Linked DNA regions of Homo sapiens. The protein of the gene in region 1 purifies or fractionates together with the protein of each later gene. This does not show direct contact. Each region holds a gene or a part of one and is shown in the gene's direction. Other genes may lie near its edges.

Region 1 (3,775 bases):
GATTGGTCTCAATTTTGATCAGCTACCCACACTTCTGCCCCAGTTAATCTTACTTTTGCGTCTATCGTGAAGTTTTGATTGATAAAAAGCCTTCTAGAAGGTTGATCCAGAAGAAAAGTACCTTTTCTTTCATCTTCATCTCCTAGCTCTCTTAATTATGGCATTGCTTCCCTTCTAGAGCCTAAGGTGTTTCAGTTTTCTTTAGTCAGTGTGCATAAAAAATCTTTCTGTGTCTTAGAAGTGTTGAGTCAACTCTGGTTATTATTTATTAAATCATAATTTTAAAATGTCAAGAGATTACTATTATTGTTATTTTTACCAGATGTGATTTTTCTTGGTAGGTTGGGTTTAATTGCTGTGAGTGGTTTACAAAATCATAATTTTCTTAATGCTTTAGAGACTGAAAAGAAGTCACTTGTTTGTGAGTAATATTGGGTCCACACTCTTGAAATCCAAGAAGCTTAAAAATCCAAGTGTTTTGTAAGGTTCACACAAACTTACTTGATGGCAAAGCCTAACGGAACTGGTAGGAGTTTATTTGTAGTATTTATTTCTCATACTCTGTAAATAGGATTTATACTTTTCTCCGCAGAAATAATGTTTGATTATAGGATAATACCATGGACTTCACTGGGGGTATTAGTGTAATATATGGTGCATGTTCCATGTTACCCTTGAAAATCTGAGAAATTATGAATTCTGAAACACATCTGGTTCTTAAAGTTTCAGATAGGGAATTGCTGACCCGTATGATATTGCTCTTGTATCCTATGCAAGGTTGTTTAGGATAAGAGTGTTTTTTTCAGAACAGTCCCAAGTAAGCTATGGATACCTACATGACAGTTGTGAGATTGATAATGATTTCATAGGGTCAGTCAGTATCTGTTAAATGTTAGTGTTTATTTTTTATGCAATTTTGCTTGCAGGATGTTTTTGTTAGCAGTCATTTGTATGTGACTTGTGGGGTTCACTAGATACCAGATACTAATTACAGACAGCTTCCTTCAATTTTAGTGCTTAGTTAATTACAGAGGTTAAGCCTAGTTGAGTTAATAGAAATTAAAATGATGTGGAAACACTTTACTTTTTCCACCATTTTATCATTACCTTTTTCTTGGCTATAGGTGCAAAAAAATTCATCATCCTGTGGATTTTACTGGCTAAGACTTAACTGGTTTCTTCCCCATCTCCTACTGCTCCCTGTCCTCTTTCCCTCCTCCCATTTATTTCTCGCTTCAAAGATTTTAGATTGTTATTTACTTAATTGGGTACAAAAAGAATGATTACTGAGTACTTACTGAGTAATGATTACTGAGTTACTAAGTAGTGTTGGGTTGAGAGGGACTGGGCTGCCCTAGGCAGGAGTGGAAGAAACCTGCTAGAAAGCTTACAGTCCTGTGAGCTCTTTAATGTCTTCAGCCTAACTTTTTAGTAACCTCTGTGACTGCTCATTTTCAGGATGGACTGCTTTATTCATCAATTTCTTCCATTCTAGAGCATATAGTAGTTACTGCGTAGAAGTTTTGAAAGTGTAGTGACTCTTCTTTTATTGATACGAACAGTATCCTAATAAACAGGAAGATTGATAATTTCTCTTGCAACTTCCTTTTTCTGTGCCATTGCTGTTGTCTCTTTTCACCTGTGTTCTTGGTATTCCTAAAATTTGTTTGGTATATTAGAGTTGTAGTATAAGTTGACTATCATAAATATCTATGCTTATTTTACTGGGTAAAGAGTAAAATAAATGAAGCAGTTTTATGGGTTAGATTTATCTTGTTTTGGTTTTGACTCAATACTTACAAGTCCATATAGTTTATAAAAGATGTTTAAGGGAGGAAGAATTTTGTCTGTATTATCAGTAAAATTAAAATCAAGTGCCCAATCTTAAAAGAAGCACATTTACTTTAAAAAATAATTGCCTTTTCAGTACCAAATATTGCCATATGACACAAATTAGTGCTTCTCTTTTTAAAGCATATTTTAATTTAGGGTTATCTATATTCATCTTCATTAGCACTATACTGAACTAAAACCATTGTATCAACTTCATTGATTTATTATTTGATCAGGTTGGGAATGTCTACCATTCTTTGACTTAAATTTGTTTATATTGTTTTGCAAGTTATTCACAAATTTTGGTGGTTTCATTTGTGTCAGCGTTGTGTGTGTGTGTGTGTATGTATATACATATGTGTGGTTTTTTTTTTCTCATATTTTCAACAGATTCTGAAGGGAGTGGTAATGGAAGTGAAGATGCTTCAAAGGACAGTGGAGAAGGTTCCTGTAGTGATTCTGAAGAAAATATTTTAGAAGAAGAACTGAATGAAGATATTAAAGTAAAAGAAGAACAACTTAAAAATTCTGCAGAGGAAGAAGTACTATCATCAGAAAAACAATTAATTAAAATGGAAAAGAAGGAAGAAGAAGAAAATGGAGAAAGACCTAGAAAGAAAAAGGAGAAAGAGAAGGAAAAAGAAAAGGAAAAGGAGAAAGAGAAGGAAAGAGAGAAGGAAAAAGAAAAAGCAACAGTATCTGAGAATGTGGCTGCTTCTGCTGCTGCCACCACACCAGCCACAAGTCCTCCTGCTGTTAACACATCCCCTTCTGTTCCCACTACGACAACCGCTACAGAGGAACAAGTCAGCGAGCCAAAAAAATGGAACCTTCGACGAAACCGACCACTTCTGGATTTTGTGTCCATGGAAGAGCTGAATGACATGGATGACTATGACAGTGAGGATGACAATGATTGGCGACCTACTGTAGTAAAGAGAAAAGGGAGATCTGCGTCTCAGAAAGAGGGAAGTGATGGAGACAATGAGGATGATGAAGATGAGGGAAGCGGGAGTGATGAAGACGAGAATGATGAAGGCAATGATGAAGATCATAGTAGCCCTGCCAGTGAAGGGGGTTGCAAGAAGAAGAAGAGTAAAGTTCTTAGCAGAAACAGTGCTGATGATGAGGAACTGACCAATGATAGCCTGACCCTATCTCAAAGCAAGAGTAATGAGGTAGATCAACCCAATTTTTATATCTGTCTGTCTGGGGAAAAGGGAATTCTTCTCTAAATCACTCTACACATTGTATTAAGTGGCTTCCTTGAAATCCTATTTATAGACGGCTGTGGGATGAATGAGCACCCTAACTGTAACATTTTTTCATTTGGCCAACAGACTTTTATTAAATATCTACTATTTGTCACCGTTCTCAAGGAGCTCACAATCTCTGTCCTCAAGGAGAAATATTTAGAGAAATATTTTTATATCCATAGACTTGGGAAATGACAAAGTTTTCCATTCTCCTTTTTATCCCTTTACTCCTTTGTTCACAGGACTGCTGAATGGTGCTGAGTGCATTATGAAAACAAAGGTCACCTTTCTTTCAACTTAGTTGTGTCCATATCCATATTAAAATATAGGCCTTTAGAATACCTTAGAGCAGGGCAACAGTCTAATGATTTTCTGAAACCTTTAGAGATTCGTTTTAAATATTAATTCCTTTACCAGTTGTAGCACTCATCATCTTTTTAGTCACCAAATCTTTGCTTTATGTGTATGGGACATACACATAAGTATGAACTATTTTTACATATATTTAGTAAATAAATTCTCTCTACAAAGAAATGGAATAAAAACCCAAACATTTCCATCATAAAACAGACATTTTTGTCACAAAACTGCAGTAATGGCTCAGTGCTTCTACTTGAAGTTCTACTACTGAAAGTTAGGTTTATTCATTGATCTCAGAGATGCATCATTCAAGACTCTTCAGTCAA
Region 2 (3,775 bases), on another chromosome or scaffold:
TCTCTGAACAGGGGGGAACCCCACAGAATGTGGCCACTAGCAGCTCCCTCACAGCACATCTCAGAAGCCTCTCCAAAGGAGATTCCCCTGTGACTTCACCTTTCCAGAATTACTCCTCCATTCACAGCCAGAGTCGCTCAACCTCATCACCCAGTCTACATTCTCGCTCACCTTCTATTTCCAACATGGCAGCTCTAAGGTATAAGGGTTTCCTGGTTTTTCTTTCTAAGCTTTCTGTTTTGTTTTGAAGGATTTAGAATTTCTGTTGACAGCTGTTTTTAGGGGAAATATATTTAGGGGAGATGTTTTTTAGGGGAAATAGCCATTATCCCAATTGAGCCTTTTTTTTTTTTTTTTTTTTTGAGACGGAGTCTTGCTGTGTCACCCAGGCTGGTGTGCAGTGGCGCAATCTTGACTCACTGCAAACTCTGCCTCCCGGGTTCATGCCATTCTCCTGCCTCAGCCTCCAGCTGGGACTACAGGCGCCTGCCACCATGCCTGGCTGAGTTTTTTTTTTTTTTGTATTTTTAGTAGAGATGGGGTTTCACCGTGTTAGCCAGGATGGTCTCGATCTCCTGACCTTGTGATCTGCCTGCCTTGGCCTCCCAAAGTGCGGGGATTACAGGCGTGAGCCACCGTGCTCAGCCCTGAGCCACTTTTACTAAGATTTCTAAGTTTACCATGTCACATTCTTTCCTGAGTCATATTTTGAAGCTGCCTATGCTTGACCTAAGGTTAGTTGCCTCATTTCTACCACTATGTGGGCAACAGTTTGATGAATATTAATTCCCAAAATACTGTGGCACTATTTTATTTTTGCCTTAATTTATGTTAGTTTTTCTTTTTTTTTTACTTGTTATTTGATATGTAAATGTATCTATTTCTCTATATAGATATATATTTAAATGACCAGATATGTATATCTGGTGCTACAGGGACATTGTTTTGTTGATAAATATATATGTCTGACTATACAGGGACATAGTTTAGAGCTTTTTGAATAATCATTCATTTTCCGAAAAAGAAGATGATCTAAGTTTTAGTTGTAAAAGATGAGTTCTTCTAATAATAATTCTAAATCTTTAGAATATAGTAAAGCACATTGACATGAACCATTTAAATAGCTACTCCTTTTTGAAAAATTTTAATTTCTGACCTGGATTATGCCATGAATGCTCTTCTGTCTGTGGAATTTTTGGAAGTGTCATTGGAGTGTGTGTCATATAAGCCTGCCTTGCTAACTGTGATGTACTCTCTCCTCTGTTTATTTTGCAGTCGTGCTCATTCTCCTGCGTTAGGAGTGCACTCTTTTTCAGGGGTGCAAAGGTTCAACATTTCAAGCCATAATCAGTCTCCAAAGAGACATAGTATTTCTCATTCTCCAAATAGTAATTCTAATGGCTCCTTTCTTGCACCAGAAACGGAGCCAATTGTTCCTGAACTGTGTATTGACCATTTGTGGACAGAAACGATTACTAATATAAGGTTTGTTATATATATTATTATATTCAAAGAAAAATGTTGCTGAAAGTCTTGGGAAATATATGGCATTTTGTTTAAAGTTTCCTTTTAATGTGATCAGTTATTAATATATGTAAAAATATATAGAGATATGTATTAAGGCCACCTCAGTTTCAGTAGAGGATATTAATGATATTAAAGTGATCATAGGCTGGACGTGGTGGTTCATGCCTGTAATCCCAGCACTTTGGGAGGCTGAAGCTGGTAGATCACTTGAGCCTAGGAGTTCGAGACCAGCCTGGCCAACATTGTGAAACCCTGTCTCTACTAAAAATACAAAAATTAACTGGGTGTGGTGGTGCATACTTGTAATCCCAGCTACTCAGGTGGCTGAGGCAGAATTGCTTGAACCCAGGAGGCTGAGCTTGCAGTGAGCTGAGATCGTGCCACTGCACTCCAGCCTGGGTGACAGAGTGAGACTATCTCAAAAAAAAAAAGTCATCATAAAAATATTATTTTGTCATCTGATATTTCTTCCTTTATAGTAATAATCTCTCATTTTTCGGGTGTTTTTTGTTCTGGGGAGAAACAGTTAATTTCCATCCGTGAGGAAATGTGGGGTTTTAGCACGTTTCCTAAGTTTTATGTTCATGTTAGTTGAGTGCCAGCTTTACTTTTTGGGAAACATAGCTTAGATCTCTGTTCTGGGTGACCTTTCTTCTTTTATATTCTCTTTAATAATTCACGTGTTAATTTATATGCCAATGTGTGTGCTAGTTAACAGTCTAATAAGTCACTGTCCCTGTCCTCAAAAGAGGCAGATAGCTGAAGGATGGTGACACAGGAGGGACTACTTTTGCTGGTAGGGCTTTGAAAGACGAATAGGTATTCGCTAGGCAGGGAAGTTGAGAAAGACCACAGACGGCAGCTGGGATCAGAACAAAAGTTCTGGTGAGTGCGTGGTGTATTTAGGGAATTACAAGTACTTCCACTCTGGTTTTTGCAGAGGGGAGGGAAAAGGCTAATGAAGAGGAGGCTTCCTAGGCGCAGTGGCTCACACCTGTAATCACTCACTTTGGGAGGCTGAGGCAGATGGATCACTTGAGCTCAGGAGTTCAAGACCAACCTGCCCAAAATGGTGAAACCCCATGTCTACTACAAATACAAAAATTAGCCAGGCATGATGGCGTGCATCTGTAGTCCCAGCTACTCTGGAGGCTGAGGTGAGAGAGTCATTTGAACCTGGGAGTTGGAGGTTGCAGTGAGCCAAGAGCACACTACTGCACTCCAGCTTGGGCAACAGAGTGAGACTGTCTGAAAAAGAAAAAAAGGAGGCTTGAGAGATTACTGATTGCCCTTTAGGCCTCTGGTATGTTTGATGACAGCGGTAAGAAGGCACTTTATAAGTGTGTCGGAAGTTTGGGAAAGAGCAGAACAATAAATGTGGAATTGTCAGCTTATAGGTGGTGATTGAGGTAAGAGAATTAGATTAGAATTGAAGAATTATTGTATTCAATAATTGTGTGTACATGTAGTATATAGGCCTTTTCCCAAGGAGAGGGTTTTAACATTCCTTAGATTCTCAAAGGGATTTGTGGCCTCCAAATAGTTAAAATCCAGTGGTGTAGAATGAGAAGAGGGCTAGGAACTGAAGTCCTGGAAACTTAAGATTTGGGGAATGGAAAGAGACAAAGCTGGCACAGAGAGACAAAGCAAAAGAGGTCAGATGGGAGAAGCAGCAGGAAATACAGAATACAAAAAAGAACATTTCAAGAATACAGAGATGCCAGTATTGCCAGGTACTGGTGAAGTGTGGCCCTGAGAGTTGAACCCAGAGAGGAGGTACCTGGGTGGCAGTGGGTTCCTTGGTGACCTTGGCCAGAGCATTTTAAGCTGGGAGGGTGGCGGGGGAAAGTGGGGTAGAAAAAGTAAATGGGGACTGAGGAAATGAACATAGGCATACAGACTCTTTAAGGAGTTTGCCTTTGAATAGGAATGAAGATACAAAATTAGAGGGAGTCTTGGTCAAGGAGAGTTTTGTTTTTGCTGAACTATAATAAAATTAGTTTTCATGACATCTTGCCCCAGTATTTTCTTTTTCTTTTTTTTTGAAACAGGGTCTCACTCTGTCACCCAGGTTGGAGTACAGTGAGTGACTCAATCACAGCTCACTGCAGCCTTGGCCTTCTGGGCTCAGGTGATTCCCCAACCTCAGCCTCCCAGATAGCTGGGACTATAAGCACACACCGCCACGCCTGACTAATTTTTTGTAATTTTTGCAGAGAAAGGATTTTGCCGTGATGCCCAGGCTGGT
Region 3 (2,938 bases), on another chromosome or scaffold:
AGGTTATCTGATAGCTGTCCTGTGTAATCTGTCCTCATTAGGACTTCCTCCTTATCCTAATTTCCCACAATGCCACAAACACTGGTTAAGCTTGCAGGCACATTAAGCATCACACATTAAACTTATTTTCAAGTTTGCTTATTTCTTCATGATAGTTTTTCTTTCTAGACTCCATTTCCCATTCTCCTTCTATTTACTACGCAGTCATTCTTCACTACCTCGCCTGAGTCGTACCTCCTCCATGGAACAGTCTCAGAGTAATCTCTAACAAATAATTATTCATATAAGTTTGTGCTTGATTGTATATGTCCACATACTATTTTTTGATTGTTTTCTTTGCCAGTACATTTATTTTCTGTCTGTTAAGCCTTTCAGGATTTGTTATATTTGTGTAAGCCCAAATTTTGAACACAACATTAGCACATGAAGGGGTTACCCAAGAAATATTTATTGACAATTTTTCATAATGATATATAAACCTAGTCTTTATTAATGACTATGTAGATAGGAATTATTGTTTAGGGACTTCACCATAATGTTCTTGAGTAAGGGTTATATAATTTTTTTTCTCATGAGAAGAAATTACCTTTGAATGGATGGAGTAATTTTCTCTTTTTAGTTGGTCACAGTGATCATTTTAGATGAAGAAACTAAAGAAAAAATGTTCAGCATGTTTACTTGGAGTTAAGTAAAATTAAAAAAAATTTAAAAAGCTAAAGAATATTAAAGAAATAGTTTGGAAAATTAAAGAAGCAGTAGTAACTGAACACTTTAAAGGAATGAAAAATGTAGAAAAACGGCAGAGACAGTGTCTTACCTAGAATATCTAGTGATGTTAGTCAATACATATTTTTTCAAACATTTATTCTGGTTTAGTTGCTTTTTTCTACTGTCCATTTTGCTTTTCTGAAGGGATTAGATTAAACGTGGTTCATTGATGCAACACAGACTTACTGATTGTTTATTGTGTGCCAGGTACTGTTATGGTCTGGAGGTACAAAAAAATGCACAAAATTTACTTGCTGCCTCAGGGAAGTAATGTTGATTGGATAATTAGACTTATAAGCAGACAGTTCAGGTGTACATGTGGGGCTCTGGCATAAAGAAGAGGACTCAGACCAAGCTGGGGAGTTGCTTAAGGAAGGCTTCCAGGAATTGGAGTCTCTTAAGCTGATTTTAAAGGGTGAATAAAAGTGGACCATGCAGATAATCTGTTGGAAAATGGGTTGGAGGTTATCTCAGAGGAAGTCACTTGCCTACATAGAGAACATGATGAATGTAAGATGAATTTGAATGTACAGGTCACATGTAGGATAGGTAAAGAGTCAGTCCAAAAACAGAATATGAGGGGCTTGTGTCCCGTGTTGTGGAACTTGCATTCCTGACTTTCCTCCTCCACCCCACTGAGATGCTAGAGAGTAACTGGAGAATTTTGAGTAGGGAAGTGACCTGTTGATCAGCTATTCTTGTTTAAAAGCTCATTCTAGGGGTAGCATGGGATATAGCTGTGACTTAAGCCAAGAGTTCTGTTAGGGGGATAGAAGAGAATGAGGTCCTAAAGTTCAGCCGCGATAGGGAGAATGACTGTGAGAGTTAACTTAGGCTGAATTAGTAGGACTGTTGATGGAATATGCAGGTAGGAAGAAGAGAGTGAATTCTTGAATGCTGTCCTTAGGTATCTGGGTGGAGCCCTTTACCAAGATAGATGATGCAGGTAGGACAGGTTTTGGGGTGTTGAATTCAGATTTAGCCATGTCTGTTTGATGAGTCTGAGTGACACAGAATAGAAATAGGGACATAGAGATATCTATTTAGACTAAATCTGTAATATGTTCTATTCTAAATGGAATTATACTCCAAAAGAAAATAAACTGATTTAAAATAGCTTGTTACAGCACTTCAGGTGTTTTTTCTTACACTAATGATTTTGTTTTACGGCTGAAAAGTAAAATGGCCAACTTGAGAAGCCTAGGTATAATATGCCTTAGATTATATTTTTGAATGGAATTATTGTTCTTTACCTGATAATTTATATTGGTTACTTGGCCTTTAAATCTTTCTTCTTACCTAACTTTCTATTCTACTATTTAAGGGGAAAGATAAAGGGTCATTATAAGAGGGCTGTGGAATGATTTAAAATGGTGGGTGAAGGGTAAAACTGAAAGTGTTTATTAGGAAAGTAAAGCTATTCATGTTTTTACAGGTAACTGAAGATCAAAGTAAAGCAACAGAGGAATGTACATCTACCTAATAACTTTCTAAAATTTAAATATGTATAATAAAATAAATGTTTTAAATATAATGTTTGTGTGTGCTTATACAGATTAACCCTTTCTCCCCAAGATTGATAGTGATCTTTACTTTTTCTTTTCTCTAAAGTATGAAACACTTCATGTTGCTTAAGTAAAAACTGTACAAAAACAGGTCACTCCCTTCCTGCTCCATGGATGCAACACTTTAGCATGTTTTCTCTATTTTTTCCTACAGATCTAGGCAGATACATACAAATATAAATGTAATTTCTAAAAAACATAAATAGGACCATACTATACTTGCTTGCGTTTTTTGCCGAACAGTGGCACAGTAAACATCCTTGTGCAAAAATGGCAAATGTTTGTAGATAAGTAATATTAACTGAGTATTTATCATGTGCTGGGTCTTGTGCGAAGCCCATCACGTGTGGAACCTTTTCTATAATCCTCATAGTGACCTGTTGAGAAGATGTTTCTATTTTTTAAATGAGGAAACAGCATAGAGCTTGAAAGTGGTAAAGTGGGAATTTGAACGGAGGTAGTTTCACTCACATGCTCTTATGTTCTACTCTATGTTGCCTCACGTATAAATAATTCTGTAGAAATAGATTTCTGGCAGTGGAATTACTGTCAGGTGCTACCAGATGCTGGCTTCCCAAAGGTTTTGCCAAGTGTTACTCCCAATA
Region 4 (3,775 bases), on another chromosome or scaffold:
TCCCCTAAGTTTTTATAGGAAATCATTTCATGAGAATACAATTATGTAGAAAGTTTATGGTTTTTTTGGTTTTGTTTTTTTAAGTGATAGGGTGTTAATTATTTGGTTAGAAATATCTTGGCTTAATTCATTAGATATCTTTGAGCATATCCAAATATTTGATGGTAGATGTAAAAATAATATGTAGATTTAGACAGGATAAGCAGTCATTTTATAGTATTGGTGTCTTATTTATTCTAGATAGTGAAGTAGAAGAAGAATCTGAAGAAGATGAAGATTATATTCCATCAGAAGACTGGAAAAAGGTAGTTAGAACAATATTTTCCCAAAATTTAGATAAATTAATATTTTTTTAAAAAGCCTCGTGTAATTATTTTTTTTTTTACTAACTATGTATATTGATAAAATCGATGTAAGCCCTTTTATGACATTTAAATGTTTGGTAAATGTTCAGATTCCTTCTTAACACATCTAGGTTAGATTAGAAATCTACATTTCTGGCGGGGTGTGGTGGCTCACGCCTGTTATCCCAGCACTTGGGAGGCTGAGGCAGGCGGATCGCTTGAGCCCAGGAGTTCGAGACCAGCCTGGGCAGCGTTGCGGGACCCTGTCTCATTTTATAAAACAAAACAAAAAATAAATAAAACAGAAATCCACATTTCTGATTTAGTCCTGAACTAGTGCCAAATTAGGCATTTGTTGCCCTGTAAAAAGTATCACGTATATGTTTTTCAATATTATGGAAAGCATTTGTGGAGGCTTTGATATTTGTTAAGTAAATTTTGTTTAGTAGTTCATATTGCAAGTTTTTCATTCTGTATTACTTTATAAAAGAAAAACTCTCCAAATGATTGAATTTAATGTTGACATTTACAACTGATAAGCTTATTATATGAAGAAACAGATTTGGCTTCTTCGTAACTATATACAATTAATTTCTGAAATGAATCTAAAGATAATATATTGAGATTAGTTTTTAATTATAAAATTATATAGCATATAATTAATCATACAGTTAAGTTAAAGAATTGTAAGTTATTGTAAAAGAACTGAGCTCTTAGGAAAAATCTATCTAAACATTATGTAGAATTAGCTGGTTGCAGTGATGTTTCCCCTGTTGTCCCAGCTACTTGGGAGGCTGAGGTAGGGAGAATCACTTCAGCCCAGGAGTTTGAGACCAGGCTGGGCAACATAGTGAGACCCCATGTCTTCAAAAAAATTTTTTATGTAGAACTGGTTAAAACAAAGAAATAATGTTATTTTTGTTGAGAGACAAGGTTAGCCCAGTTTACGGTATGTGTTAATTTGAGCAAATGATGGGACTCGACAGAAAACAAGAATCACAAAAGTTAATTTGTGTGGCCTATTTGGGCAAGGGTTCTTTCATCCTGTTTTTAATCTGATTCCTACAGTGTGCAGAAATTAAGATGAAAAAAGCTAGAAACCTTGGGAGTCCTTATAAATTGCTGTCCCACTTCATATTCAAGTTTATGTATCTTCAACATGTGTTGTTTTTTAATCTGGAGTGTTCAGTAGAGTATTTGATTAAGCATTCAGTGTTTTTTTTTTAAATGAAAGAACAAAAGCTCAGAGGTAGAACACCTCTCATTGCTGGAGGGTATTAATTACCCACACCTTACTCAGAAAGGGTATTAATTAACCACACCTTTCTCAGAAAAAAATTATGTAATAAAGCAGGCCAGAGTAAATGCAGATTGTTTTCTTTCAGTATGATTTTGTTGTTTTAAATAATTGTCAAGGTTCAGAGATTCATTTTTTTTTAAGACTTATAAGATGAAATTGAGTTTTTATAGAAACTTAAGGTAGGGGAAACAGTTTTGAAGTCAAACCTGAATTTTAGTTGTAGCTCTAGAACTTAGTAATTGTGTGCTCCTGAGAAAATCAAATTTTTGAGCTTCATCTTCTTACATATAGTATGGGAATAACAATGTCAGCCTTATGGGGCTTGCTGAAAGATTAAAGGAAAATTGCATATATGATATGTTAACACATAATGATCTTCAAAGCTATTTCCCTTCCCTTCCCTGTACTACCGAACAAATTAACAGATGAAAAGAAATGTTCAGAACTGAACAGGAAAAAGGAAGTACCTATCTTTAAACTAATCCAGATGTTCTCAACCCTGTTTTTATGTTAGAATCATTTGGATAACTTAGATGTACTGACTACCAGGGCCTTCATTCATAGATTCTAATTTAATTGTCCTGCAGTGGATCCAGGCATTGATGGTTTAGAAGCACCCCAGCCAGGGTTAGTAACTTGACAATGTTCTTTGGTAGGCCTAGGTGAGTTAAGTTAAAAGAGGCACAAGATGTGACAATAAAGGACTCTTTTTATAGTAGAAGACATAAAGAGAATTCCATTGTAAGGGTAGAGAAAATTTGTTGTAAGTTTGATTCTTTTTAGAAAACTGATCATGAGAAAGATTGGTTTTTCTTATGGGTATAGAAATAACTTTATTACATAAAGCACGTCTTTGAAGTTGTACTGGATAAAATGAGCTCCTCACATCAGTGAGGTAACAATAGCAGGAGAGAGACTTTCCAAATCCTAAGAGTTACCAAAACTTCTAGACCATGATTTTGTACCTTTCATGCCCAATTTTGAAAATGTCAGTAAATGTGTTCTTAACATTTAGCCATCACACAAAAGAGGGTTCATGTAATCTTGGTCTCCTTGCATTGTGAAATTTCACCAGTGGTAGTTTGCAGTTGCTTTTGAGAACATCCAGTTTCACCTAATCTGTGATTTGACTGTATAGATATGATTACTGGATTTCCTATTTAATTATATTTGTGGGAGGAGGTTACTTTTTCATTTTGTATTGTTTTAATGAAAGTCAAGCCATAACCTGCTTATCTATTTCATTTAGAGTTTCTTTCATTTGGCCCCTACTGAGCTTTATACAAACCCTTTTTGTTATTTTTCCTACTTTGAAGCTCTGTTTTTCAGACTTCAGTCTATGTCAGAATCACCTAGAGAGCTTGTTAAAATACCAATGACTGAGTCCTGTCCCCAGAGTTTCAGTAGGTTTGGGGTGGGACCTGAGCATTTGCATTTCTAACAGTTTCCCATTAGCTGTGTGTGGTGGCATGTGCCTGTAGTCCCAGCTACTCAGAGACTGAGGTGAGAGAATTGCTTGAGCCTGGGAGGTCGAGGCTGCAGTGAGCCATGATCACTCCAGCCTAGGTGACAGAGCAAGACCCTGTCTCAAAAAAACAAAAATTTCATAGATGACACTGATGCTGCTCATATAGGGATCATATTTAAGACCACTGTCTTAAGTGTAGATACTCTGAAAATATCTGAATTTGACTTTGTGTTTTACATGTTTTGCAGTTGTCTTACTAATGGAATTATCAGAATTCACTTCTTTGTCTCTATATTTTGAAATAAAGTTTGTATTTATTGTTTACGTTGCATTTCACCTCAGTATTATTACTAATATTTTCATCCAGTCATTATTTGTCATTCATCTTCACAAAGGTACCTCTGAGGTAGTTAATTGGTTGTTTTTGTATTTTATGACAGAGAAACCAGGAACAGTTTACTAAGATGGTAAGGCTAGAAAATGGATATAAAATCTGTTACTAGATCTTACTAATGTTTTATGTTATTTTTAAAATAGGAGATTATGGTGGGCTCCATGTTTCAAGCAGAAATTCCAGTTGGCATTTGTAGATACAAAGAAAATGAAAAAGGTGGGTTATTAGTAAAGTTACGTAGCTGAATTTATGCTTTCAGTGTAATGAAC

The links.
Region 2: the proteins of PHF14 (region 1) and ANAPC1 fractionate together in Homo sapiens (co-fractionation; one large-scale study listed by BioGRID). This does not show direct contact.
Region 3: the proteins of PHF14 (region 1) and MRPL39 purify together in Homo sapiens (affinity purification with mass spectrometry, with the first as the bait; one large-scale study listed by BioGRID). This does not show direct contact.
Region 4: the proteins of PHF14 (region 1) and MIER1 purify together in Homo sapiens (affinity purification with mass spectrometry, with the first as the bait; one large-scale study listed by BioGRID). This does not show direct contact.

Annotation. Positions count from the first base shown.
Region 1 is NC_000007.14:10,980,149-10,983,923, forward strand, and holds part of PHF14 (PHD finger protein 14), read left to right. Parts: intron 1-2,223; coding exon 2,224-3,011; intron 3,012-3,775. UniProt on the Homo sapiens protein: Histone-binding protein. Binds preferentially to unmodified histone H3 but can also bind to a lesser extent to histone H3 trimethylated at 'Lys-9' (H3K9me3) as well as to histone H3 monomethylated at 'Lys-27' (H3K27ac) and trimethylated at 'Lys-27' (H3K27me3).
Region 2 is NC_000002.12:111,860,099-111,863,873, reverse strand, and holds part of ANAPC1 (anaphase-promoting complex subunit 1), read left to right. Parts: coding exon 1-199; intron 200-1,275; coding exon 1,276-1,485; intron 1,486-3,775. UniProt on the Homo sapiens protein: Component of the anaphase promoting complex/cyclosome (APC/C), a cell cycle-regulated E3 ubiquitin ligase that controls progression through mitosis and the G1 phase of the cell cycle.
Region 3 is NC_000021.9:25,585,020-25,587,957, reverse strand, and holds the end of MRPL39 (large ribosomal subunit protein mL39), read left to right. Parts: intron 1-168; coding exon of another isoform or gene 169-261; exon of another isoform or gene 262-348; intron 349-2,203; coding exon 2,204-2,251; 3' UTR 2,252-2,302; downstream 2,303-2,938.
Region 4 is NC_000001.11:66,959,439-66,963,213, forward strand, and holds part of MIER1 (mesoderm induction early response protein 1), read left to right. Parts: intron 1-240; coding exon 241-305; intron 306-3,649; coding exon 3,650-3,722; intron 3,723-3,775. UniProt on the Homo sapiens protein: Transcriptional repressor regulating the expression of a number of genes including SP1 target genes. Probably functions through recruitment of HDAC1 a histone deacetylase involved in chromatin silencing.